Linked DNA regions of Homo sapiens: region 1 is linked to region 2. Evidence: fine-mapped expression QTL. A gene starts in region 2. The other region holds a variant in brackets. All regions are shown on one strand. Distances are between the middles of the regions.

Region 1 (15,330 bases), 650 kb before region 2:
AGCGATACAATTTAGCCCTGAGGAAAGTCCCCAAAGTCAAGAGTGCTGCAGTCACTCTATGTGGGTAGGGTGGGAGAGCCACAGGAAACCCACCATCCCTCCATCAGAGCCATATCACACTCCTAGACCCAGGTGTTAAACCAAAGCGTGCCCAGATTGGACAACCGGGAAAAATGGAGATGCGCAGAATGTGCAGGACGGGGGAGGGGTTGGCTAAACTGGAAGTCGGGAGGTCCAAGTCCTACTCTAGCTCTGCCACCAGCCACCTGCACAGTCCTGTGAGAGCCACCTCTAAACACATTCCCTCTAGTAACCACGGCTGGGAGAGGTGGAATGGCGAATAACATCTATTAGTGTTTGCTTGTATTTGCATAAAGAAGGGCACAATAAAAACCGAAGCAGCATCAAATGAGATCCTGGGTATGGAAAAGGGAGTGTCAATTAATATTGTTAACAGCCAGATCCCAAAACCCCAATCCTACCAAGTTCCCAACATTATCCCTAATTTAAGAGAGGAGTTCTGCAGGATGAATAGGAGTTTGCTGGAAACAAGAAAGTTATTGTAGAGAAAGAGAATGACAGGGTCAAAAACAGAGAAATAGGAAATGAGCCCAGTGAGTCCAGAGAATTTAAAAAAATGCAAAATACAGGGCGGGCGCATTGGCTCACACCTGTAATCCCAGCACTTTGGGAGGCTGAGGCGGGCAGATTGCCTGAGGTCAGGAGTTCGAGACCAACCTGACGAACATGGTGAAACCGGTCTCTACTAAAAATACAAAAACTAGCTAGGCCTGGTGGCAGGTGCCTGTAATCCCAGCTACTCAGGAGGCTGAGGCAGGACAATCACTTGAACCTGGGAGGCAGAGGTTGCAGTGAGCCAAGATCGTGTCACTGTGCACTCCAGCCTGGGCGACAGCGAGACTCTATGTCCAAAAAAAAAAAAAATGCAAAATACAAAATGCAATGTGGAAACTTGGATTGGATTCTGGAACAGAAAAAGGACATCAGTGGAAAAACTGATGAAATCTAAATAAAGTCTGCAGTCTAGTTAACAGTATTGTACCAATGTTGATTTCTCAGTTTTGACAAATATACCACGATTATATAAGACGTTAACATTAGAAGGAAGCTGCACTATCTTTGCAACTTTTTTTAAACTGAAATTATTCCAAAATTAAAAGTTTATTAAGAAAGAGGGTTGGCAAGAGGTGGAGATTGCAGTGAACTGAGATCATGCCACTGCACTCCAGCCTGGGTGACAGAGGGAGAGGAAAGAAAGGAAAGAAAGAGGAAAAGAGAAAGGAAGAAAGGAAGAAGAAGGAAGGAAGGAAGGAAAGGAGGGAGGGAGGGAAAGAAAGAGAGTTCGAGGTATTTAGGGAAGTAGAGCTGTTAAAAGCTAGAGCAGGCCAGGCATAGTGGCTCACACCTACAATCCCAACACTTCAGGAGGCCAAGGCGGACAGATCCCTTGAGTCCAGGAGTTGGAGACCAGCCTGGGCAACATGGTAAAACCCCATCTCTACAAAATATACAAAAATTGGCTGGGGGTGGTGGCGTGCACCTGTAGTCCCAGATACTTGGGAGGTTGAAATGGGAGTCTCGTTTGAGTCTGTGAGATCGAGGCTGCAGTGAGCCATGATCTCACCACTGCACTCCAGCCTAGGTGACACAGTGAGACCCTGTCTCAAAAATAAACAAATAAAACCAGCTAGAGCATATAAGGTGCCAGAGTGGGAAATCAGGTGCTGGACGTCAGCAGAGGCTGGTTTACAAAGGCCCGTGCCACACAATGAGGTTCAGACTTCCTTTGTCTTTAGGCAGTGACTCCATGGCCATATTCTCCCTCTCTCTAAACCCTTCCCACAGGCCACAGGTAGACATTAGTGACAGCTTCTTACCTTCACTGTATTTTACCTGCCCATATCTACCTGAACCTACAGACGAAAGTCCCATCTCTTATACACAGACACACATGCAGACACGTGTGCACACACACACTGGCCCTCTAGGGGGACCTTTGTCCAACCCACCCCAGATACAGCTGGGAGAGACAGCGACCCTGCCTCTGGGTGCTTATAGTTTCAGGAGCATCAGCCAAACATTATATGAGACACAAAGAAACTGTCAGCAAGATAGATTCAGCAACTTCGTTTGCCCTTTGATATGAATAAAACCTTCTCAGGACCAGCTTAGGCTAAGCTGTGTGGAAATGGGAAGCAGGCATAGAGCTGAGCCCAGTGGCCCCCAGCACTGCCCTGTCCCCACCTGTGTCTTGCTACGGCTGCCTGGTCAGTCCTGCTCTCAGATATCTGGACCCCTGCAACTCCTCACTTCCCTAACTCTTCCTCGCCTTGTTACCATCTAATGATTGGCGTCCACCACATCCTATATCACCAGTTAGGAGGTGAGTTTCTCATGAGCAAAACTAGGGCGTGGCTTATCCTGGGCACCTCCCACAGCCTAGCACTCAGGTGCTCAGTAAATGTGGGGTGAACAGGACCTAGCATGCTGGGCAAAGACACTCAGAAGACAGAGCTGAAAATGCTCATCTTGCCAACATTCTCCAAGACTCCAAGCCTTGGGGCTATTTAGCATTTTATAACAACCAAGTCCACTACTCCTGTACTGAGATTAAAATTGAAAATCAAGTTTATAAGCACCCTTATAGTTTACAAAGCACTTACACATCCAGGATTTCATCTGACTCTCTTACAACAGCAAAGTAGGAGTTTTTACTAAGCCCATTTTGTGGATAACGAAATGGAGTCTCAGAAAAGCAGAGACTTGCTCAGGTCATCTCTGCTCCCAGGTAAGTATGCAGTAGGGCTTGCACCTGTGACTTCTAATTTCAAGCCCCATGCTAATTGCCTACAGCTTCTCTACCCTCTTACGCAGGAAATACCACAAATACATAGCCCCCAGAGTCCCTGCTCCTCCACCTGAAGCCAGAACCACCAACCAGAACAGAAGCCAGCAGCCACAGAGTGAAGAGAAGCTGCAGCTGCTACCCATGGGCTGGCATTGCCTACCACTGAGCCAGGGGCAGGCTGCCTGGGCACATACCCGCCCATCCCCACCCCTCATGGTGGAGAAAGAGCAGTAATCATCCTCGCTCTGCAGCTGTGGAAAGCGAGCCTCAGAGGAACAGACAAGCACCAGCAAAGGCAGGACCCAATTGCAGGCTCACCACCTGTCAGCAGCCCTAAGACTCAGAGTCGCCTTGCAGGGAGGCACCTTCAAGATGGCACAACTGCTGAGGAGTCATCTGCAGCCCCTTCACCCACCTCTACAGTCAAAGGGCAAAAACGGCAGTGTAGTGCCAGTCCACATTTACCTACCACAGGAAGCAGCAGCTTAGCACCTGGGCTCTGGAACCAGGCCACCTGGGTTTACATCCCGGCTCTGCTGCTTCCTAACAAGAGCATGAACCGCCTGTGACTTGGCTTCCCCATTTGTAAAACTATCAACCTCAAAGGGTTGTTTGTGGATTGAGTTTATATACAGCAGTTAGAACAGCATTAGTTACATCTTATGTACCCATGCAAGTGTTAGTTCTTCAGACCTACTACATTAAGTGTCTGGAAGGTACCTACTGTGGGTACAACAGGAGCTGGTAATCTAGCTGGAGAGTATTTATTTATGGGGAAGGAGTCTTGCTGTGTCGCCCAGGCTGGAATGCAATAGCACCATCTCAGCTCACTGCAACCTCCGCTTCCTGGGTTTAGGCAATTCTCCTGCGTCAGCCTCCTGAGTAGCTGGGATTACAGGCACCTGCCTGAAGGGATGGGTTGCTCCTCCACACCTGTGGGCACTTCTCATTAGGTGGAACGAGACTTGGAAAAGAGACACAGAGACAAAGTGTAGAGAAAGAAAAAAAGGGGGCCCAGGGTGTGTCTGGAATTGGTAGGTCCTTGGTCTCACTGACTTCAAGAATGAAGCCACGGACCCTCGCGGTGAGGTGAGTGTTACAACTCTTAAGGTGGCGCGTCTGAAGTTTGTTTTTTCTGACGTTCAGATGTGTTTGGAGTTTCTTCCTTCTGGTGGGTTTGTGGTCTTGCTGGCTTAAGGAGTGAAACTGCAGACCTTCGCGTTGAGTGTTACAGCTCTTAAGGCAGCAAGTCTAGGAGTTATTCGTTTCTCCCAGTGGGCTCATAGTCTCACTGGCTTCAGGAGTGAAGCTGCAGACCTTCGTGGTGAGTGTTACTGCTCATAAAAGCAGTGCAGACCCAAAGCGTGAAAGAACAAAGCTTCCACCACGTGAAAGGAGACCCGAGCGGGTTGCTACTGCTGGCTCACGCAGCCTGCTTTTATTCTCTTATCTGGCCCCACCCACGTCCTGCTGATTGGTAGAGCCCAGTGGTCTGTTTTGACAGGGCGCTGATTGGTGCGTTTACAATCCCTGAGCTAGACACAAAGGTTCTCCTCCTCCCCACCAGATTAGTTAGATACAGAGTATCGACACAAAGGTTCTCCAAGGCCCCACCAGAGCAGCTAGATACAGAGTGTCAATTGGTGCATTCACAAATCCTGAGCTAGACACAGGGTGCTGATTGGTGTGTTTACAAACCTTGAGCCAGATACAGAGTACCGATTGGTGTATTTACAATCCCTGAGCTAGACATAAAGGTTCTCCACATCCCCACCAGACTCAGGACCCCAGCTGGCTTCACCCAGTGGATCCCGCACCAGCGCTGCAGGTGGAGCTACCTGCCAGTGCCGCGCCCTGCGCCCACACTCCTCAGCCCTTGGGTGGTTGATGGGACTTGGCACCGTGGAGCAGGGGGCGGCGCTCATCGGGGAGGCTCGGCCGCACAGGAGCCCACGGAGTGGGTGGGAGGCTCAGGCATGGTGGGCTGCAGGTCCCGAGCCCTGCGCCGCGAGAAGGCAGCTAAGGCCCAGTAAGAAATCGAGCGCAGCGCGGGTGGGCCAGCACTGCTGGGAGACCCAGTACACCCTCCGCAGCCGCCGGCCCGGGTGCTAAGCCCCTCATTGCCCGGGGCCCGCAGGGCGGGCCGGCTGCTCTGAGTGCGGGGCCCGCCAAGCCCACGCCCACCTGGAACTCCAGCTGGCCCGCAAGCGCCGCTCACAGCCCCGGTTCCCGCTCGCGCCTCTCCCTCCACACCTCCCTGCAAGCTGAAGGAGCCGGCTCCGGCCTTGGCCAGCCCAGAAAGGGGCTCCCATAGTGCAGCGGCGGGCTGAAGGGCTCCTCAAATGCCGCCAAAGTGGGAGCCCAGGCAGAGGAGGCCCCCAGAGTGAGCGAGGGCTGTGAGGACTGCCAGCACGCTGTCACCTCTCAAGGGGACCAGCGTTCAGCATACGGAGGATCCCGCCAGCCTCTGAGTTCCCTTAGTATTTATTGATCATTCTTGGGTGTTTCTCGGAGAGGGGGATGTGTCAGGGTCATAGGATAATAGTGGAGAGAAGGTCAGCAGATAAACACGTGAACAAAGGTCTCTGCATCATGAACAAGGTAAAGAATTAAGTGCTGTGCTTTAGATATGCATACACATAAACATCTCAATGCCTTACAGAGCAGTATTGCTGCCCGCATGTCCCACCTCCAGCCCTAAGGCGGTTTTCCCCTATCTCAGTAGATGGAATATACAATCGGGTTTTACACCGAGACATTCCATTGCCCACCTTCCTCTTGTCTCAACTGCAGAAAGGTGTTCCTTCCTCTTTTACTAATCCTCCTCAGCACAGACCCTTTACGGGTGTCGGGCTGGGGGACAGTCAGGTCTTTCCCTTCCCACGAGGCCATATTTCAGACTGTCACATGGGGAGAAACCTTGGACAACACCTGGCTTTCCTAGGCAGAGGTCCCTGTGGCCTTCCGCAGTGTTTGTGTCCCTGGGTACTTGAGATTAGGGAGTGGTGATGACTCTTAAGGAGCATGCTGCCTTCAAGCATCTGTTTAACAAAGCACATCTTGCACCGCCCTTAATCCATTTAACCCTGAGTTTGACATTGAGATTAACAGCATCTCAAGGCAGAAGAATTTTTCTTAGTACAGAACAAAATGGAGTCTCCTATGTCTACTTCTTTCTACATAGACACAGTAACAATCTGATCTCTCTTTTCCCCACACCCGCCATCATGCCCAGCTAATCTTTTTTTTTTTAGACGGAGTCTCACTCTCACCAGGCTGGAGTGCAGTGGCGCAGTCTCAGCTCACTGCAACCTCCGCTTCCTGGGTTCAGGCGATTCTCCTGCCTCAGCCTCCTGAGTAGCTGGGATTACAGGCACCTGCCACCACGCTCAGCTAATCTTTTTTTTTTTTTTTTTTCTGAGACGGAGTCTCGCTCTGTCGCCCAGGCTGGAGTGCAGCGGTGTGATCTCAGCTCACTGCAAGCTCTGCCTCCCGGGTTCACGCCATTCTCCTGCCTCAGCCTCCCTAGTAGCTGGGACTACAGGCGCCCGCCACCACGCCTGGCTAATTTTTTGTATTTTTAGTAGAGACAGGGTTTCACTGTGTTAGCCAGGATGATCTCGATCTCCTGACCTCGTGATCCGCCCGCCTCAGCCTCCCACAGTGCTGAGATGATAGGCGTGAGCCACCGCGCCCGGCCGCCCAGCCAACTCTTTTAAACAGATGCATGAAACCTGAAATTATCACCCAGGACAAATCTTGTAAGAGTCTAGTGGATGATTCAGAAAGAAGTTGCTACAGGAGTGTCCTGAGAAAGAGGATCAGAGCAGACTAAGATGACTGAGGGTGCTGGGGAAGGCAGGGGCTGGGCTGGCCTCAGAGATGGTGCAGGCTGCTTGAAGGGCAGAAAGGAGGAAGTGCCAAGAGCTTGGGCTTCGGAAAGAAGAGGTGGGGACCCAGGCATAGAGCTGGGGATGCATGTGGTATTCCAAAAGAGTGAACAGATTTGCAAACAGAGGTTAAGGCGAGAGAGCAGAGGGCCTGTATGATGATCTTACAATTGAGACATCGGCTTTCCATACATTCAATAAATATTGTGCACCTACTGTATGTCAGGCACTGTTCAAAGCCCTTGGGATACATAGAGAACAGAACAGCCATGCGGATTTTGCATTCTAGCTGGAGGAGACAGGTAAATAGCAATGCACATACCAAGGAAACATTCCACTCTGTGAGAAGGTAAATGCTATGGGAGCATTGTTTGGAAGTAGAACAGGGGTAAGGGGAGTTGGGAGATCTTTGAGCAGGAAAGAGTAAAGCTGAGCTTCAGGAGTCTGATGAAAGGATGATATTAAATATTGCTTGTTTAGAATTGCTCCCCGCCTGCCCCCAACCCCCATATACTAAGGAGGACAGACCCTGAGAGCCATGATTTGTTTTGCTGAGCAGGGTGAGGGGAGGTGGGGACACAAACGGAAAATGCCAAGTTTAGAGCTAAATTGCTCCACACAGACATATGCAGAGGACATCCACAGGGCAGGGGGCTGGCTGAGGCTGGGCTGGGGGGCAGATGATAGGGGTGGCTGCCACAGATTGGACGTTTGAGAAGAGCTATCCAGAGGGATTCTTAGAATGGTTCTCTCTGGCATATGAGAGGGAACCCCTCATCCACCTATCCGTGAAACCTTCATAAAATCCACACTGGACATAGGCAGTTTCCAGGTTGAGTGTGTGTGTGCTTAATGCAAGGAAAAGAAGTGATGGGTGAGAGGAGGGCAGCCCACCCCCAAGGACGCACGCAGCAAGACTCTCTGGGTCCAATGTTGTGTCCATCCTGGGCAGGTGAACAGCAGCGAGGCAGGGCAAGGGTAGAACAGCCGTTTGGGCTGCAGATGAGCTTCCAGGATGCAGCCCCCTTGCGGATGGCAGGGCATCAGGGGGAACAAAAGATCAGGATCCAACCCTGGACTGAAACCAGAAGC[T/C]CTGAGGTCTGATCTGTGCTCTGCCACTCAATCACTACAACCCGCCTTAGCCCTGGTGCCTCCCAGCAATGACGTAAGAACAGCTAAGAAACAGGAATCACATTCACTAAGCAGCTGTGAGGCTGGGGGAAGGAGGAGCCCCAGGTGATGGGAGGTGTTGGTGCTGACTGATTAGAGACAGGGAGGGCTGAGGAGAAAGTCAGCTGCGAGCCTAGAAAGCCCTTGGAGATTATGAATTCTGATCTTGATGTTTACATTGAGATTACTATATTTCCTATTGCTTCGGTAACAACCACAAATTTAGTGGCTTAAAGTAACACATATTTACTATTTCACAATTCTAGAGGTCTGAAATCTAAAATGGGTGGGCAGGGCTGTGTTGGATCCCTCTGGCAGCTGCAGGGGAGAATTCGTTTCTTCGCCTTCTCCAGCTTCTAGAGGCTGTCCTTGTTCCCCAACACACAGCTGTGCATCACTGCGACCTCTGCTTCTGTCGTCACATCTCCTTCCCTGGCTTTGACACTTCCACCTGTCTCTTATAAGAACCCTTTGGATTCCACTGGGCCCACTGGGATGGTCCAGGCTATGCCATGGAAAGTAACACATTCACAGTTTTGGGGATTGGAACGTGGGCCTATTTGGAGGGCCGTTAGAAGTGGAAACGGGCCAGGCACGGTGGCGCACGCCTGTAATCCCAGCACTTTGGGAGGCTGAGGTGGGCGGATCACCTGGGGCCAGGAGTTCAAGACCAGCCTGACCAACAGGAGGAAACCCCATCTCTACTAAAAATATAAAAAATATAAAAAATATAAAAAACACGGTGGCTTACGCCTGTAATCCCAGCACTTTGGGAGGCTGAGGTGGGTAGATAACGAATTCAGGAGTTCAAGACCAGCCTGGCCAATATGGTGAAACCCCGTCTCTACTAAAAATACAAAAATTAGCTGGGCATGGTGGTGTGCGCCTGTAGTCCCAGCTACTTGGGAGGCTGAGGCAGAAGAATCACTTGAACCCGGGAGGCAGAGGTTGCAGTGAGCCAAGATCGTGCCACTGCACTCCAGCCTGGGTGACAAAGCGAGACTCCGTCTAAAAAAAAAAAAATTATTAGCCGGGCATGGCAGCGCACACCTGTAATTCAATCTGCTTGGGAGGCTGAGGCAAGAGAGTCTCTTGAGCCCAGGGATGGAGGTTGTAGTGAGCCGAGATTGAGCCACTGCACTCCAGCCTGGGCAACAGAGCGAGACTTGGTCTCAAAAAAAAAAAATCTGCAGGCTCTTGGATATCAGGACTTGCATTTACAGAGAGATGAGTTAAACAGAGAAAATGGTGGAAGGCACAAAAGGGGATGAGTGCTCCAGGAGAGGTCTGAGAGAGAAGGGCAGGGGCCTGAGAAAGCCCCACGCCCAGCCGTCATTCTGCAGATGTTTGCAGAGGGCCTGCTCTGGGCCAGGAAGGGACCGGGAGCTAGGGAGAGCACAGAAATTAATCAAATGCAAGTGCACCCTCGAGGAGCTCACTACCAAGAAGTGGACACATAAAGGAAGATGATGATGACCAGAGAATCACACATGCGAGACTCAAGGTAATCCACGGAGAAAAAGACTGGAGTGCTCCAGGAAGGCTTCATAAGGTGGTGTATTTGAGCTTAGAAAGAGGAACAGGAGAGAAGCTTCTAGAAGTGAAGGAGGTGAATCAAGATGGCCACTGGTGTGGTGGCTGGAAGGGCCTTGGTGGCCTGTGAGAGCGAGGGTCCTACCTGTTGCCTTACAAAGCCATTGCCCACAGCTGGAGGGACCTGGGGCATGGGTGTGACGGCTCATTAGGTCACCTGGCCTCTGCGTGTTCAAATCTTACCACCAGGGGGGGCACAAGAGCCAAAGTGGACCCTGAGCCTGAGCTGGGGTTTCTTTCCCAGAGACAGGACGCCTTGAGGGAAGGGAGGAAAAGCTTTCCCACTCCAGCACCACAAAGCCTGGAAGGCCTGGCTGCTTCCATGTGATTTCTGACTCAGGGGCTTACCCATATTTTCCTCTTCCGGTTAAGGCAAAACATAATTTTTCCATCGCTCACCTTCCTGGTTGCCTGTAGCACTAACTGTCTGTAACAAATGCACTTTGGCCCAGGGGTTTATTGTGACACAGAATGTCAGGAGGAATGAAAGACACCTCCTGATCCAAAATGCTGTGAACCAAAAAGTATCTGAGACAGGTCTCAATCAATTTAGAAAGTTTATTTTGCCAAGGTTACAGATGGGCGCCCAGGAGGCAGATCTGTGCCTTCTGCAAAGATGATTTTGAGGGCTTCAATATTTAAAAGGCGGCTGGTGGGGAAAGAGGAAGAAAGTTTTTTTAAGGTGTGGGTAGGTAAGAAACAAACGGTTGCATTCTTTTGAGTCACTGATCATCCTCTCACTGAATGCACAATTTACATGGCAGAGGAGGGTAGAGAAATAAGTCACTTATGCCTTGTCTAGCACAGCGAATCTTCATTTTTACATTGGAGGAAGCAATCAGATATGCATTTGTCTCAGGTGAGCAGAGGGATGACTTTGAGTTCTGTCCTTTTTTCTGTACCTGTGAAGATATGCTATCAATTTACATTGTCATGGTGAAATTCAACAGAACTGTTTTAGGGCAAATATCATAGGGTCCACCAGAAATTTCCTCATGGGCAAATTGTGAAAGAAGTGCATAGCTGCTTTTTTTTTTTTTTTTTTTTTTGAGACGGAGTCTGGCTGTGTCCCCCAGGCTGGAGGGCAGTGGCGCGATCTCGGCTCACTGCAAGCTCTGCCTCCCGGGTTCACGCCATTCTCCTGCCTCAGCCTCCTGAGTAGCTGGGACTACAGGCGCCCGCCGCCACGCCCGGCTAATTTTTTTGTATTTTTAGTAGAGACGAGGTTTCACCGTGTTAGCCAGGATGGTCTTGATCTCCTGACCTCATGATCCTCCCGCGTCGGCCTCCTAAAGTGCTTGGATCACAGGTGTGAGTCACAGCGCCCAACAAGAAGTGCATAGCTTTTTTTGTTTTTTCTTTTTGAGACGGAGTCTCACTCTGTCGCCAGGCTAGAGTGCTGTGGCGCGATCTCGGCTCACTGCAACCTCCAACTCCCTGGTTCAAGGGATTCTCCTGCCTCTGCCTCCCGAGTAGCTGGGATTATAGGTATGCGCCACCATGCCTGGCTAATTTTTGTATTTTTAGTAGAGATGCGGTTTCACTATGTTGGCCAGGATGGTCTCGATCTCCTCACCTCGTGATCCGCCCACCTTGGCCTCCCAAAGTGCTGGGATTACAGGCGTGAGCCACTGCGCCCGGCCGAGAAGTGCATAGCTTTTTAAAAAATCTTTGTAGCTATCTTATTTAGGAATGGGAGGCAGGTTTGCCTGTGGCAGTTCCCAGCTTGATTTTTTCCTTTGGCTTATTGATTTTGGGGTCCTAAGATTTATTTTCCTTTCACAATACTCTTGTACAGGTGAGGAGACTGAGGCCCAGAGAGGAGGCTGCCTGCCTAACATAGACCAAAGGGTCAGAACCAAGAGTAGAACTCAGACCCCCTCACTTCAGGCCCAATGCTCTCATCACATAAAAAGGATGCCTTGATTATACGAATGTGGCACTGAACTATATAGGCTGACCCCAATTCTTTCTTCAGTGTAAACAATAATAGGAATAGGAGCAACAGGCAGCGTTTCTGCAGCGCTTCTGTGGCAGGCAGGTTCTAAGGCCTCCCTGTGGATTTCCTCTGTCAACACTCACGTTTACCCTAATAAGTAATTTCTATTATAAACTTAAATATTTACTGAACTCCTCCCACCAGTACTTGTTAACTTGGGAGAAGGGGGAGATGCAATAAAATCTTTCTTTTCCTAAGACCTGTCTCCCAAGATAGATGGACGCAGGCCCAAAAGGGCACAATGGAACACTGACTGTTTTCCGGCCTCCTTCCCACCCTCCAGGGTGCTTCACACTCCTCCCCTGTGCTGGAATCATCCTGGACACTGGTTAGGATGTGTAAAGTCAAGCATCACCAAAATTCCTCTGCTTGTCCTCTTGGCATTAGGCTCAGTTTAGGCCCTGCCTCTCCTTCCTTGTCCTCCTTCCTCCCCATGTACCACTATCGGTTGTTTCCCCAGTGCAGCCAGCTGCCCGCTTCTGTGTCTTTGCATATCCAGTTCCCTCTTGGAATTCCCTCCTCCGCATTGACTACTGACTCCACCTTCCCAAGTCAAGTCAGCTGCTGCAATGTCCCCTGCTCTGGGGAGCCTCTCGGACTCAGATTGACGTGGGGATGTGCCCTGTGCCCCTACTTGTTACTAGCTTCTGCTGCTCTGCCTCTGATCTCTCCCTCCCCTTCCCGGCCTGACACCTCATGGGGTTTTGCCCTGCCTTCTCTAGGCTTTATCCCATTGCCCCGCCTTCATTCATTCTTCTCTCACCTGAACTACTCCACAGCCTCCTAGCAGATTTGCACCTGGTCCTCAGCTCAACTTTCATCTACCACTGCTCCCCTCATATTACCTGATTGCGTCTCCCCAAATACAACATCTCCATGTTCCATGCAATCCCGTAAAGCACTGAGCCAAGGACTGGAGATGCCAACAATGGTCCTGGTCCTCAAGGGGCTTCCTACCTGCCCCTCCGGCCTTCCCCCACCCAACTACCTAAAACACAGGCAGAGAACCTCTGAAAACACAGCAGATCCAACCATTCCCCTGCTTGAACCTTTCGGTGGCCCCTAATGCTCAGAGTGCAAAGTCCAGGAGCACAAGGCTCTTTCTCACCTTCCCACAAACTACCCCGTGACTCCAGGCTCCAGCCCAGAGCCCGGACAGCCCCTGCCCCAGCCTTTGCCCAGGATTCTCCCTTGGCGGCAACTTTCCCTGTGGTTCTGCAGCATCATCTCCCAGTCTGGGTCAGAGGCCTCTCCTTAGCCTCTTAGCCCCCAAGCCTCTCCCCGTAACTGCACCTATCACCCTCAAACCATTGTCTGGCTGCCTGTCTCCTCCCACACTGGTCCCTGAGCAGAAACAAGGACTAATCCATGTTTTTCAGCTCCTACCCCTAATGAAATACCCTAATAGATACTGAAAAATGTTTTTGAACCAATGAGACAAGTCTACTGATAATAAACAGGCAAATAACAGCAATGTGCTAACAGTGGCTGTTTCTGGTGAGCAGAATTTTGAGGTCTGTTCCTTTCACTTCTTGGTATTTCGGTTGTTTCTGTAATGACTGTATCTTGCTTTTGTAATCATAAAGGACAGTAAAGGAAACTTCATTTTGAAAATAATACAAAGGGATTCGGGGACTTCAAAAGAAGGTGACTCTCCTCGTCCACTCCAGAGAATCAGGAAAGGAGTGTTTAAAGACCCACAGAATTCCTACAAGTGACGTTGGGGGGGGGCCAGCCAGCCAGGGCGCATGCCGGCCAGCGAGTGGGGTGGGCTCTGGGTCCGGGAGAAGTCAGATCAGTGCTCTGTACAGGGCCTTGAGGGCAAGACGAGGAATTTCGACTTAGGTCCTTGAATCTGGAGAGCTACAGAAAGTTTGTGAGCTCAGGAGAAGCGCTCCGAGCTCGGCATCTGGAGCAGTTCAAGGCAGCAGCGAGCAAGTCCAAAGACGCAGGAGGGAGGGTGGGGTGGAGGAGTAGAGAGAAAACAGAAGCCGTCTACAGACCCTTTTTCCCTCTGGGGCAACTAAACCTCAAGTGCAGGAAGCGCTTGGGGACTGCCCAGCCCTCAGCTGTGTTATTATTCGGTGATAGGTATTTGCTAATTACTTCCAAAAGCCTCCCATCTGTCATCCCACCCAGACTGCGCGCTTCTAATTCCTCCTACCCCACATGCTGTGCCCAATGAAAAGTATGGTCAGCGAGCGAAGGTTTGCAAGGAGACAGACGAGGGCGAAATTAAGCCAGGCGGCTTCCCTTTAAATCCTCGCAAAGCAGAAGGGCCCCTCACTCTGGCAGCAGGCCTTGGCCAAGGGGCCTTTAGCCCTGACGACCCGGGGAAGAGTCTCCCAAAGCAGAACGCCCGGTCCGGCGCCCAGACCAAACGCGGGGGAACCGGAAGGGCGAGGCCTCCACGTAAGTCCGCGGTAAAAGTGGCAGGGAGTGGCTGCCTGCAAAGACCCCAAGACGGCTTGAAGAAGGAGTGGGTGGCGGGTGGGGGTTAGGGCGACTAGGCGGGGAAACAGGGAGAGGGTCGGGCTCCGCGGGGCAGCTGGGGCCGGGGCTCGCCGACCTGGGCGGGGGCGGGGGGCGGGGGGGGTGCGGCCCGGGCGGGGCCGGTGGGGCGGGAGGCGTGGCCGGCGGGGGGAGTGGGGGCGGCTTTTCCCGGCACATGCGCACCGCAGCGGGTCGCGCGCCCTAAGGAGTGGCACTTTTTAAAAGTGCAGCCGGAGACCAGCCTACAGCCGCCTGCATCTGTATCCAGCGCCAGGTCCCGCCAGTCCCAGCTGCGCGCGCCCCCCAGTCCCGCACCCGTTCGGCCCAGGCTAAGTTAGCCCTCACCATGCCGGTCAAAGGAGGCACCAAGTGCATCAAATACCTGCTGTTCGGATTTAACTTCATCTTCTGGGTGAGTGAGCGCGACTGCCGCGCGCTCCTCTCAGGGCCCACCTGTTCGCGGGCCCCGGACACTGGCCGCGGCCGCGAGTGCCGGCAGCTGGCACTGCCCGCACCGGGCAGGCACCGGGCGGGAAGAGAGAGCGCCCTGCGGCTGCCAGCTGGCTCCAAGGCCGGGTCCAGAGCCGGGCGGGACGGCCGCGACGGGCGCATTCGGGTGGGGGCTCATCACCGCCCAGCCGGCGTGGGGAGCCGGGCCCTCTTGAGATGAGGCGTGCGGGAGGGTCCTGAGCACTTTAGCTCGCCTAGGATTTGAGCTGGGGTGTGTGTCTGCTCCCAGCTCAAGTCCCTCCGAGTGCCAGAGAGGAAGGCAGGGAGAAGCGGAGCACCCCTCTTTGGGCCAAGGCCAAGGAGGACTGTGGTGAGCAGTATGGCTTGTGACCGGGTGGGGTCTCCCAGGTAGTAGGGGGCGCCAGGAAGGGAGGGTGCGGGCACGGCGAGAGCTCAGCCAAGAGCGGCTCTCACTTTTACGCAGGAGCGGCAGGGGTGCCTCGGCCGCGGGTCCGGCCCCGGGACCCAGTCCCTGAGAGTCGGGGGCCCCTCCACCCTTGAGGAGGAACCTCGCAGGCCCCCGTTCCCTCAGACTTTGATTCTGAGCCACCGTGAGAGCGCCGAACTCCCTGGTAGCTCCCTGAAAGACTAGCTTGTCTTGATTTCTTTCAAGGACGATAAGTATCTTCACTGGAGAGAACTCAGAGTTCGGGAGAGGAGGGGGCAGATACCTATCTGCGCCTCTAGTGGGATGAGTCCTGTGTGTGCATTTCCGGGAGAGATCAGGTGCCAGCCAGCTGCCCGCCCAGGAGAGCCTTGGCCTTGCCCTCTCCCCTCCCCGCCAGCCCAGGCGGCCCACCCAAGGC
Region 2 (11,957 bases):
CCCCTCTGCTCTGTCTTTTCCCTGGCAGATGTCCTTCTCCTGGAGGGTGTGACCTTGACCCAGGATTCCAGGCAGCTGAATGGGTCGGAGCGGGCGGTGTTGGATGGGCTGCTCACCCCAGCCGAGTGTGGGGTGCTGCTGCAGCTGGCTAAGGTAGGAAGACCTGCAAGCTCATCAGCTCGTTCAAGACTCTTGGATACAATCACCTGTTCCCTTGCTCTTGGCCTGCCCCCTTCATTCTGCCTGTCCTGATTATCCAACCGGGACTGTGCTTACCACTGCCTCTCAGCTGTGGATAAGTTCCGTCTCGTCTTAATTTAGCTGACATAGGTGGATGTTCTTTACAAATGAATTTTGCTAGAAATTGATAGGAAGAACAAAACAAAAAACATGAAGGCATAAAAATGGATGAGTGTGCAGGTAAGGATTGCTTGGTTAGCCAAGAGTTTAGTTACTGGCTTGGCTGATGGCTCAGCAGACACGCAGGCCTTTCTTTCCCTCCTAGTTTAGGTTGAATGACTCATACTCACCAGGTTGAGGCTACCATTTTATGAAGCTTCAACCCTTATCTTAGGTTAGTGCTCATTCAGTAATATACTCACTGAGTAGCTGCTATACACTAGAAACTGCTAGGTTCTAGGGAGAGGAAGATGATTATAGACTCTGCCCTTTGGGAGCTCAAGTGTAGAGGTGGAAACAGACAAGGAAATACATAATATAAGCAGGTGGTAAGTTTGGTAAAAGAAGTATGTTTTTGGGCTGGGTATGGTGGCTCATGCCTGTAATCCCAGCAATTTGGGAGGCCGAGGTGGGTGGATCACCTGAGGCTGGGAGTTCGAGACCAGCCTGACCAACATGGAGAAACCCTGTCTCTAATAAAAATACAAAAAAGTTAGCCAGGCGTGGTGGCACATGCCTGTAATCCCAGGTACTCGGGAGGCTGAGGCAGGAGAAGCGCCTGAACCCGGGAGGCGGAGGTTGTGGTGAGCTGATCTCGTGCCATTGCACTCCAGCGTGGGCAACAAGAGCGAAACTCCATCTCAAAAAAAAAAAAAAAAAGTATGTCAAATAGAAGCACTGAAATGCAGTTATAGAAGGCTTGCTGGAGAGGTGGTATTTGAGCTCAGTCTTAAGGATGAGTTAGTCAGGCGATTGGGGGTGGAATCAGTCTAAGAGGGAGAAGAGCATGGTGCATTCTGGGAACTGCAGTCAAGCACAGGGGTGAGAGCAGGGCCAGCTCCATAGTCATTACCTGTGTGATCTTGGGCAATTTATTTTAACATCTCTGAGCCTAATTTGCTCATCTATAAAATGAGGATAATAATAGTGTTTTTGTCATAGTGTCGTTGTGAGGATTAAATGAGTTAGCACATGATAAAGCTCTTAGAACACAGAATCATCACTGGCTGGGTGTGGTGGCTCATGCCTGTAATCCCAGCACTTTAGGAGGTCAAGGCAGGTGGATCACTTGAGGTCAGGAGTTCAAGACCAGCCTGGCCAACATGGTGAAACCCGGTCTTTACTAAAAATACAAAAAAATTAGTGGGCATTGTGGCAGGTGCCAGTAATCCCAACTACTGGGGAGGCTGAGGCAGGAGAATCGCTTGGACCCAGGAGGCGGAGGTCGCAGTGAGCCGAGATCGCACCATTGCAGTCCAGCCTGGGCAACAAGATCAAAACTCCGCCTCGAAAAATAAATTTTTTTAAATAATTAATTAATTAATTAATTAATTAAAAAAGAACATAGAATCATCAGGGTGTATGTTACCAAGAGACAGTATAGGGAAAGAGGGAGAGAGCCCACACATGAAGGCCGAGGGACAGTGAGTGTCTTCTGTGGCCTCCCAAGGAGTTTGGGCTTTATCTGTGTATGGTAGACAGCTGTTGCAGGATTTTAGGACGGTTGACTTTTGCATTCCTGTAGTACCTGGAATCAGGTGCAGGGTCTGGAGTCACCTGTAGGAGTGGTAGAGCCCTCTAGTGGCAGTCTGTAGAATGCAGTGGGAGAAAGACCCGGAAAAGGGGAGTAATTGACGAATGCCACCGTTGGCTGGCGAGGTGGCTCACACCTGTAATCCCAGCACTTTGGGAGGCTGAGGCAGGCGAATGGCTTGAGCCCAGGAGTTCCAGGCCAGCCTGAGCAACGTGGTAAAACCCCGTCTCTACAAAAATACAAAAAATTAGCTGGGCCTATGCGCCTATATGTTCCCACCTACTTGGGAGGCTGAGGTGGGAGGACCTCTGGAGCCTGGGAGGTGGAGATTGCAGTGAGCTATGATGGCGCCACTGCACTCCAGCCTGGGCGATAGAGCAAGACCCCGTCTCAAAAACAAAAAATGAAAAAAAAAAAAAACCCCAGGTTAGACGGCTTGGGTGACTAGGTGTCTCTCAGAAGTGAGATTTGTATGCAGGCGTAACTAGATAGTGGTGCTTAAACAAATTCAAAAAGTAGACAAAAAACGGGTGTCAGAAAAGCGAATAATTCCAGTGTAGACATCCAGATATTAGGAGACCCCCAGGTAGTGAGAGTGGTCGCGGAGGTGGCTGGGTAGTTGTGACTCAGTATCAAGGAGTGGGGGAGCCACGGAGTCCACAGTTTCTCCGAGAGCATGTCAGGTGGGAAGAGGTCAGAGAGGGATAGCCCGCTGATGCTGTCTCCCTACCGCCAGTCTGGCCTAACTGTGGAACTTCCTCTTAGGGTCCTGTTTCCAGAGGGACTCCTCTATTCTTGGCTCATCGGGGATTAATGATCAAGCCCTTCCTGCCTAGTTCCCAGCTCTGCCCCACTTTTCCAGCTGTCCCTACCCTCTCAGAGGCCCCCTTACTGCTGTAGGAAGCTCTCCCGAGTTCTCTCCACAGTCCCCTTAGTAAGCGGGATTCCAGCCCGTACCAGAGAGGGACAATCGGACAGCCGTGGCGGTGGGCACTCTCTGGGAAAGAGCAGCAGCTCAGGAAGACGAGCCACAACAGAACTGTGGGAGCATCTAGCTTCTTCTGGAGAGCGGGAGGGCCGGAGGGAGGGTCTTGCAGCCCTGCAGACAGTGAGGGGCTGGGGGAGTGACTCCACGGTAAACTCCTTCCTATTTAGGATGCAGCTGGGGCTGGAGCCAGGTCTGGCTATCGTGGTCGCCGCTCCCCTCACACCCCCCATGAACGCTTCGAGGGGCTCACGGTGCTTAAGGCTGCGCAGGTGAGCACAGGAGGCACCCGGGCCCGTCTGATGCCCAGACCTGGAGGAGAGGCTGTGCAGGAAGCCGGGCCCCAGGGCCTGGGCTTTTGTGAAGGAGCTTTCTTGGGACCGAGACTACCTGATAGGACCCAGCGTGGAGAAAAGGGATGTTCTGAGAGCTGGGGCCGGGGTTGTTGTCATGGAGAGAGAAGGAGCAGTTTGGGCTGATGGACAGAGCTGGATGCTGACAGACTCCAAACCCATGGGTGGAGAGCGGCAGAGTTGGGCAGGGGCTAGGGCCGAGACCACCCTCCCCTTGCCTTCCTCCTTTTCTGCCCTGCCTTTCACTGCCTGCAGCTGGCCCGGGCTGGGACAGTGGGCAGTCAGGGTGCTAAGCTGCTTCTGGAGGTGAGCGAGCGGGTGCGGACCTTGACCCAGGCCTACTTCTCCCCGGAACGGCCCCTGCATCTGTCCTTCACCCACCTGGTGTGCCGCAGCGCCATAGAAGGTACGACAGGGACCCCCCACTGCTCTTCTCCAACCTCAGGCCCTGCCCCCAGGACACTGCCCCCAAGAGCCCCGGGGTGGACGTGCACGGCCTGAGCCCACAGGGTGGCAGATGGGCACAGGGGCACAGAGGTACCCCCAGACCCCTTTGTGTCCTAGGAGAGCAAGAGCAGCGCATGGACCTGAGTCACCCAGTGCACGCAGACAACTGCGTCCTGGACCCTGACACGGGAGAGTGCTGGCGGGAGCCCCCAGCCTACACCTATCGGGACTACAGGTGGGCAGCCCCTCTAGTGGTCAGGCAGGTGGGCAGACAAAGGTCATCCCACTGCCGGCCTGGGCCTGGGTTGGGGTCTCACTGCCTCTTGCTTTTTTCCCTCCCCAGCGGACTCCTCTACCTCAACGATGACTTCCAGGGTGGGGACCTGTTCTTCACGGAGCCCAACGCCCTCACTGTCACGGTGCGTGGAGTGGGGGGTGTGACGGTGTGACAAAGGGCCCAGCTGTGGGGTCAGGATTCAAAACAGAAGGCTCCAGAGGCAAATGCAGGGAAATGGCCAGGGCTTTTAACCCTTTCACTTCCCCGCCTCCGCAGCCCTCCCGCTGCTTCCTCCGTAGCAAGGTCTCTAAGTGGCCGAATCAACCCTACCATCAGTATTTGTCTCGCCTCCTAAAGAAGGGTGAATGAAGCACAGCTTGCAGGTGCCTCCAGGACTCCATGGCCCTATTCTAGGGATTTGGGGAACTTGAAATAGTCCTTCCTCTTTGCAGCGAGGTGAGCACAGTGGCTGGCGCACAGATACCAGGGCCGCCTTGACTGGGGCTCGGATTCTGAACCTTTCTGAGGTTTAGTTTCCTAGACTGGGGTGATAATAATAGTACGTATTTTAAAGGGTCATTGTAGGAAGTAATTTAGGTAATGTACCTAAAAGAATGAGGCAGCGCCTGGTAATGATAAGCAATTAATGAATGTTAGGTGGGAAATTTCCGGACACCAGGGGCTAGGATTGGGTAGGAGGAGAGGGGCAGTGATTGTTCATCTGGGTGTGGGGTGTGAAAATGGTTCCAATATCTGTATCCCCTTCTGCATAGAGTCTGGTACTGCATGCACAGCCCCAGATTGCTTCAAGCCCTGGATTCAAAGGGCTGAGTGGGAAAAATCAGGGTACCAGGGGTCAGGAACCAACAGGAGACCATCCGTGGAGACCCCTTTTTCCTTTGGTTCCCAACTCCTCTTGCATTTTTGCTCTGCAAGTTGAAGCTGATTTCTCATTTGCCCCAAGCTAGTCCCTGAATTAAGGAGTAGGAAGTGGTAGCGAGAGAGCTGATCCTCTCTGTGCCCCTGTCCCCATCCTGCTCTAGGGAGTGAGGGCCAAGTTCTCTGAGAGAGCCAATCCCTGGAGCTGAACCTGCCCTCATCCCTCCAGGCTCGGGTGCGTCCTCGCTGTGGGCGCCTTGTGGCCTTCAGCTCCGGTGTCGAGAATCCCCATGGGGTGTGGGCCGTGACTCGGGGACGGCGCTGTGCCCTGGCACTGTGGCACACGTGGGCACCTGAGCACAGGGAGCAGGTAAGGAGCGGGGTAGGAAGGGATGTGGTTCTCCTGGTGCGTGAAGGGTGGGCAAGGAGCCCCCGAGAAGGCTCACAGTCGGTGAGGGTCAGGGGCTGAGCTGACCCAGGGAAGGTGGGTGCAGGGAATGGGCCACACTCTCCTCCCCAACCCCAGGAGTGGATAGAAGCCAAAGAACTGCTGCAGGAGTCACAGGAGGAGGAGGAAGAGGAAGAGGAAGAAATGCCCAGCAAAGACCCTTCCCCAGAGCCCCCTAGCCGCAGGCACCAGAGGGTCCAAGACAAGACTGGAAGGGCACCTCGGGTTCGGGAGGAGCTGTGAGTGGCTGAGCCAGCTCCTTGAGGATGTGGCCACTTGACTTGTGGAAGGCCATCTTGATGCCAGGACACACAGGAAGCCCCTGTGTGACATCAGGAGCAGAACAGCAAGCTCTCTGTCCCTGCACCCCCACCATCTTGGGGACCTACAAGGGCCTGGACTCAGAGGACAGTGCACAGGCTAGCCTGGAGCTCACCAGGCCTGGGGAGCTGGGACGGGGCCCCGCTGCCGGACCTGCAGCCCTGGACAGATGGGGAACACTGTGCCTCCCTGAACAGAAATGGCAGGGGAGGAGGCTGATGCTTTAAATGAAGAGGATGGTGGGGTTGGGAGGTATAACCCTGCTCCTCTCTCCCAGTCTGTGCAATAAAGGTCGTGAAGATCTCTCAGCCAGGGGCCAGTCAAGTGTATCACAGATTCTGTGATGGCTGGAGGTGGGGGTGGCTCTGGCTGGCCTGGGAGGAGACAGGTGTCTTTGGGCCTCCCAGAGGCGGGGCGCCTGGAGCCTGTGATTTGTCAGGGAAATCTCAGCCACCTGCTCCCCTCATGCAAATGACCCAAGCCCCTGGCAGCTGCTCCTTAGGCCTCCAAGTGTAAGCCCTGTCTTCCCTCTCTGAGCTTTGCTGAGACTTAGGGCCGCCTGCTTTCTCTCTGACCCCTGCTTTCACAGCCTCGAGAGGGCAAGGAGGGGGCCAGACCCCAGCCTGGGAGCAGCGTGCGGGCCTTCCCTCCACTTGAAATCCGTTGCCCGCCCACAATAGGGGCAGACCTGTCCATCCTTCTCTGTGGGTCCCCTGTACCTTTCTCCCCCAACAGGATCAGACCCAGAGGCAGCTGGTTGGGGTTTGTCGAGAAGAAGGATTATCCAGATCAGTCCTTTCTAATCTCAGCTCCTGCCTGTACCCTCCCATACTCACCAAACCCTCTTCCCCACCACCCTGAGCTGAGGAGCACAGTTTGAGGTACTGACAATGGGGCCATCTATCACCCTTATATCCCACCTCCTGGCCTGGTTGCTAAGTGGCCCTGACTGCCAAGATCATCACCATGGATGGGGGCCGGGACCAGGGGGGCCACTGGAGCTGTAGTTGTCTGCTCCTTTGCACCCCTCCCAAACCCCAACCCTTAATCCTCACAGCTTTGCTCTAATCCTGTGGGGCCTGATGCTCTTATCTCTGCCTGCAGAGACTGACCAGGGAAGCACCCCTTCACCCCCTCCTCTCTCAGGGCTTGTGGTGGGGGCTGCCCCTCTCTATGGCCCCACACTCCTGCCCCCAACCCTCCTCCCGGCTGGGCCCAAGTCTCTCTGGAATCCGTACACCTCCCTCCCTCCCCCCACCCCTTCCCCCCACCCCTGCCAGCTGATTTCATTTGCCTGACGTTGTGGTTGGCTCTACCCTTCCCTGTCAGGCCCCCCCAACCCCCCGCCGGTCGGGGCCAGGCCAGGCCAGGCCAGCTCCTCTGGCAGCAGAGCCTGGGCAGGTGACGGGCGGGCGCGGGCGTCGCAGCTGAGGGAGTAAGGAGGCTCCCAGGAACCGGAGCTGGAAACCCGGCCGAGGTCCAGCCAGAGCCCAAGTAAGAGGGAGCTGGCCTGGGCTCTGCTCTCCTGGGCTGGGGCGCAGGCAGGGCTCAGGCAGGCTGGGGCTGGACGCAAAGGACCTCAAACTTGGAGGGCCTAGCTGGGGAGAGGGTGCAGCCACCCAGTCGTTTCCCTGTGTCTTGGAGTCTGGTGTGGGCACGAAGGGCAGAAGCACAGCCTGGTGGGGGGTTCCTCAACACCGACCCCATGTTCCTGGCAGGAGCCAGAGTGACCCCTCGACCTGTCAGCCATGGGGGAGATGGAGCAACTGCGTCAGGAAGCGGAGCAGCTCAAGAAGCAGATTGCAGTAACTCCAGAGCCCTACCCCTGGGGCCCCAGAAAACAGCTGGGGACATGAGGAGCGTGGCCCAGGGGGAGGGGGCTGGGTTTGCTCTTGAGTGACTAGAAGTGACCAGGGACTTTCTAAACTTGGTTCGCATATTTGAGACCCCCAAGCCCCAGAGCCCCAAGACCAACCTGCCCTGAAGGCCCATGCACCTGCCACCCCCACCTCGCCCTTGCTCCCCTGATGTCTGCTTTCCCTGCAGGATGCCAGGAAAGCCTGTGCTGACGTTACTCTGGCAGAGGTAAGACCCCCTGTCCCCCGGAAGGCAGGGCATGGGGGGAGGGGAAGGGAGCTCCCCGACCCGCAATAGCGCGTTGCTCCGAGCATTAGTACAGCACGTCCTTGGAGTGAGGAAACCCATTAATTAATTCATTCGACCAACATTTTAGCGGGACCTGCTCTGAGCCAGGCACCATATTGGATGCGAAAGATGCGGACACGGTTCCTATTCTCATCCGTAGAACAAGAGTGACCACAGCCCCCTCCCAGGGCCTTGAAGATGAAGAAGCGATAGTACTTTGTAAATTATAAAGCCCTTGTAGACTCTAGCTGCTAGTTTTCTATGCTGTATTTTGTCAATTCTAAGATGCACATTTCTTCACATTTTGACATCTCTGAAATCAAGGTGCATTCAGCAATGGATCATTGTTTCAATTAGAATTGACAGCATCTTTTCTTTCTTAGTGATGCATCTTAGATTGGATTAAATATGTTAATAGTGAACACTTTTTATGAGCCAGATACTGGGCTAAGCTGCATAAATACCTGATTTCATTGAATTTTCATGATATCTCTGTAAGGTAGGTGCTATGATAAGCCTCATTTTACACCTTGAGTAAACAGACTCAGGGAGGTGAAGCAACTTGCCCAAGATAACAAAGCAGGCCGGGCGCAGTGGTTCACGCCTGTAATCCCAGCCCTTTGGGAGACTGACGTGAAAGGATCACTTGAGCTCAGGAGTTTGAGACCAGCCTGGGCAACATAGTGAGATCTCTTCTTAATATAAAAAAAATTGCTTTTAACTTTTTAAAAAAAGATAGCAATGCAAGTGATGGCAAATCAAGTCTGTTCACTCTGGACCCCCAGCCTAAGTCTAAAATGTGGTTAGAGCTCAAGGGGCATAGTACCACAGATTTCAGGAGGTACAGTTCAGGGTCATGGTGATGCCCCAGGCACCCAGTTAAAAAGCTAGCCGTGCTGCAGCGGTGGGTGCAAGCAGGCTCCTCTCGGCTTGGGAGAGCCAGCTCTGTGCATCTCTTCCCAAATCTGTTTCCAATGACCTCACATTGGCAGCTGGAAACTGGTCAAAGTGCAAGTATTCGTATCGTGGAAATCACCTTCCCACCTTCCTCACCAACACTGGAGAGGTGCTTGTTAAACACTTACAAGCAACACACCTCTGGCCATGCATGCATCTCTTTCCCACATCAGTCTAAGACACTCCAGGGCAGAGACTTATTTCTCTAAGGCTGGGGGCCTGACCTAGAGCCTGGCACAGAGCGGGAACTTGTATAGATCAGTGGCAGTGACAGACATCTGGGCACGTAACCTGCTCACCCTGATATTCAGTGCCCCTCTCTCTGCAGCTGGTGTCTGGCCTAGAGGTGGTGGGACGAGTCCAGATGCGGACGCGGCGGACGTTAAGGGGACACCTGGCCAAGATTTACGCCATGCACTGGGCCACTGATTCTAAGTGAGGCTTGGGGGGGAACCGAGAATGGGAGGGTGAGAGCGGGAGTGAGGAAGGCGGGAAGGGGAGGCTTGCATGATATGGGATGCCCTCTCCCCAGGCTGCTGGTAAGTGCCTCGCAAGATGGGAAGCTGATCGTGTGGGACAGCTACACCACCAACAAGGTACCAGCCCTGCCTCCCTGAGCCTCCACCACTGCATCCTTCCTAAGGGCGCCATGCCTACCCTCCTGTGCCCAGCTGGGAGCTTGGCTCCGGTCCCATCTCTGCTCAAACCACCCTCCCTGCAGGTGCACGCCATCCCACTGCGCTCCTCCTGGGTCATGACCTGTGCCTATGCCCCATCAGGGAACTTTGTGGCATGTGGGGGGCTGGACAACATGTGTTCCATCTACAACCTCAAATCCCGTGAGGGCAATGTCAAGGTCAGCCGGGAGCTTTCTGCTCACACAGGTGAGGGAGAGACCCTCTCCTCCCCTCCTGAGGGGTTCAGGGAACCCTGGGCTTCCAGTGGGCTGTGGCTCTGCAGCCAGGGCACTGTCCTTCTAACCGCCTCCAGGTTATCTCTCCTGCTGCCGCTTCCTGGATGACAACAATATTGTGACCAGCTCGGGGGACACCACGTGGTGAGGCTGAACATTGCTGGTGCTGGGGCTTGGGAGTGGGCCCGGCCTTTCTCTAACAGTCTCCCTCCATTTTGGCAGTGCCTTGTGGGACATTGAGACTGGGCAGCAGAAGACTGTATTTGTGGGACACACGGGTGACTGCATGAGCCTGGCTGTGTCTCCTGACTTCAATCTCTTCATTTCGGGGGCCTGTGATGCCAGTGCCAAGCTCTGGGATGTGCGAGAGGGGACCTGCCGTCAGACTTTCACTGGCCACGAGTCGGACATCAACGCCATCTGTGTGAGTGCACCCCCCACCCCAGCTTCACTCCAACTCCTTCCCCGACACTCCCCACAACACATACAATACACATCCTCTGCCCCTCCCATAGCTTCCCTAGCCCTTTCTTACTGTATTTTTTTTTTTTTTTTTTTTTTTTTTGAGACAGAGTCTCACTTTGTCGCCCAGGCTGGAGTGCAGTGGTGCAATCTTGGCTCACTGCAACCTCTGCCTCCTGGGTTGGAGCAATTCTCCTGCTTCAGCCTCCTGAGTAGCTGGGATTACAGGTGTGCGCCACCATGCCCGGCTAATTTTTGTATTTTTAGTAGAGATGGGGTTTTGCCATGTTGGCCAGGCTGGTCTTGAACTCTTGACCTGAGGTGATCCTCCCACCTCAGCTTCCCAGAGTGCAGTGCTGGGATTACAGATGTGAGCCACTGTGCCCAGTCTTCCCTAGCCCTTTCTTTCTTTCCTTTTTTTGGAGACAGAGTCTCACACTGTTGCCCAGTCTGGATGCAGTGGTGCTATCATAGCTCACCGCAGTCTCAACCTCCAGGGTTCAACCAATCCTCCCACCACAGCCTCCTGAGTAGCTGGGACTACAGATGCGTGTGACCACGCTTGGCTAATGTTTTGATTTTTGTGTAGAGATGGGTTCCCACTATGTTGCCCAGGCTGAGCTGGAACTTCTGAGCTCAAGCGATCCTCCTGCCTCAGTCTCCCAAAATATTGGGATTACAGGCATGAGCCACCACGCCTAGCCCATTTTATCACGTTTGCTTTATCATTTTTTCTCTGTAGAGAAATAGCCATAGATACACACACACATACACACTTAGATGTAGATATACATTTTCTTTCTGTGTCTTTTGAAAGTAGGTTGCAGACATCATGTTTCTTTACCCCTTAAGTACTTCCCGAAACAAAGCCCTTCTGTAGCATAATCACTGTATGATTCTTAAGATCAGGAAACTCAACATTGACACAATACTACAGTCTACAGTCTATATTCAAATTTCACCAATAGCCTCAAAAATGTCCATAATAGCTCATGTTTTTTTCTGTCCAGGATCCAATCCAGAAACGTGCATTACCTTTCCTCGCCATATCTTTTTCGTCACCACCTTTAAACTGGAACTGTTTTCCCACCTTTGTCTTTTATGTCATTGACGTTTTTGAAGAGTACAAACCAGTTTTCTGTAGACTCTCCCTCCGTTTGAGCTTATCTGACATTTGCTCGCCGTGAGATCCAGGCCTTGCATTTGTACTGGACCCTGTTCTTACACACCCTGATCCAGCCCACTTGTGTAGTCTGGGAGTCTGGGACAACCTCCGTCCGCCCTTCTAGCCGGGTCACTGCAGGCAAGCCTTGGTGCTCTTGCCTGCGACGTGGAAATGATGCCTGCCTGCAGCGCTGTATAGTGCAGAGCGGGCGAGGGGCATAGGGAAGTCACTGGCACGTGGTATGTGTTGGCAGGGCTGCTTCTCACCCCAAACCAAGGGAGGGACAGGCAGGGAGGCTGAGAGCAGCGGCTTGCCCTGGAGCTGTCAGGTGGGAGGCAGAGGGCGGGAGAGGCTGTGGGCTGCCCAGGTCTGATCCCTGACCCACTTGCCACCCGTGCCCTCAGTTCTTCCCCAATGGAGAGGCCATCTGCACGGGCTCGGATGACGCTTCCTGCCGCTTGTTTGACCTGCGGGCAGACCAGGAGCTGATCTGCTTCTCCCACGAGAGCATCATCTGCGGCATCACGTCCGTGGCCTTCTCCCTCAGTGGCCGCCTACTATTCGCTGGCTACGACGACTTCAACTGCAATGTCTGGGACTCCATGAAGTCTGAGCGTGTGGGTAAGGGCCAGCCCTGGCTGCTGCTTCCTCAGCTGGAAGGACCCTCCCCAG

The links.
Region 1: its variant is fine-mapped to the expression of GNB3 in nucleus accumbens (GTEx, PIP 0.96).

The regions. Positions count from the first base shown.
Region 1 is chr12:6,186,140-6,201,469 of GRCh38, forward strand. It overlaps CD9 (CD9 molecule), which reads left to right and starts at 14,261. Exons shown (of 8, transcript NM_001769.4): 1 at 14,261-14,426. The coding sequence starts at 14,361. RefSeq lists enhancers at 4,258-4,943, 4,944-5,629, 13,133-13,745, 13,746-14,357 and a silencer at 7,957-8,006. The variant T/C (reference allele first, on the strand shown) is at 7,852.
Region 2 is chr12:6,833,897-6,845,853 of GRCh38, forward strand. It overlaps GNB3 (G protein subunit beta 3), which reads left to right and starts at 7,029. Exons shown (of 10, transcript NM_002075.4): 1 at 7,029-7,137; 2 at 7,362-7,448; 3 at 7,690-7,728; 4 at 9,074-9,180; 5 at 9,278-9,341; 6 at 9,467-9,629; 7 at 9,736-9,802; 8 at 9,881-10,082; 9 at 11,690-11,906. The coding sequence starts at 7,392. P3H3 (prolyl 3-hydroxylase 3) reads left to right here. Exons shown (of 15, transcript NM_014262.5): 9 at 29-153; 10 at 3,089-3,190; 11 at 3,527-3,677; 12 at 3,836-3,953; 13 at 4,062-4,137; 14 at 5,104-5,244; 15 at 5,401-5,951. The coding sequence ends at 5,565. It also overlaps a transcript of CDCA3 not described here.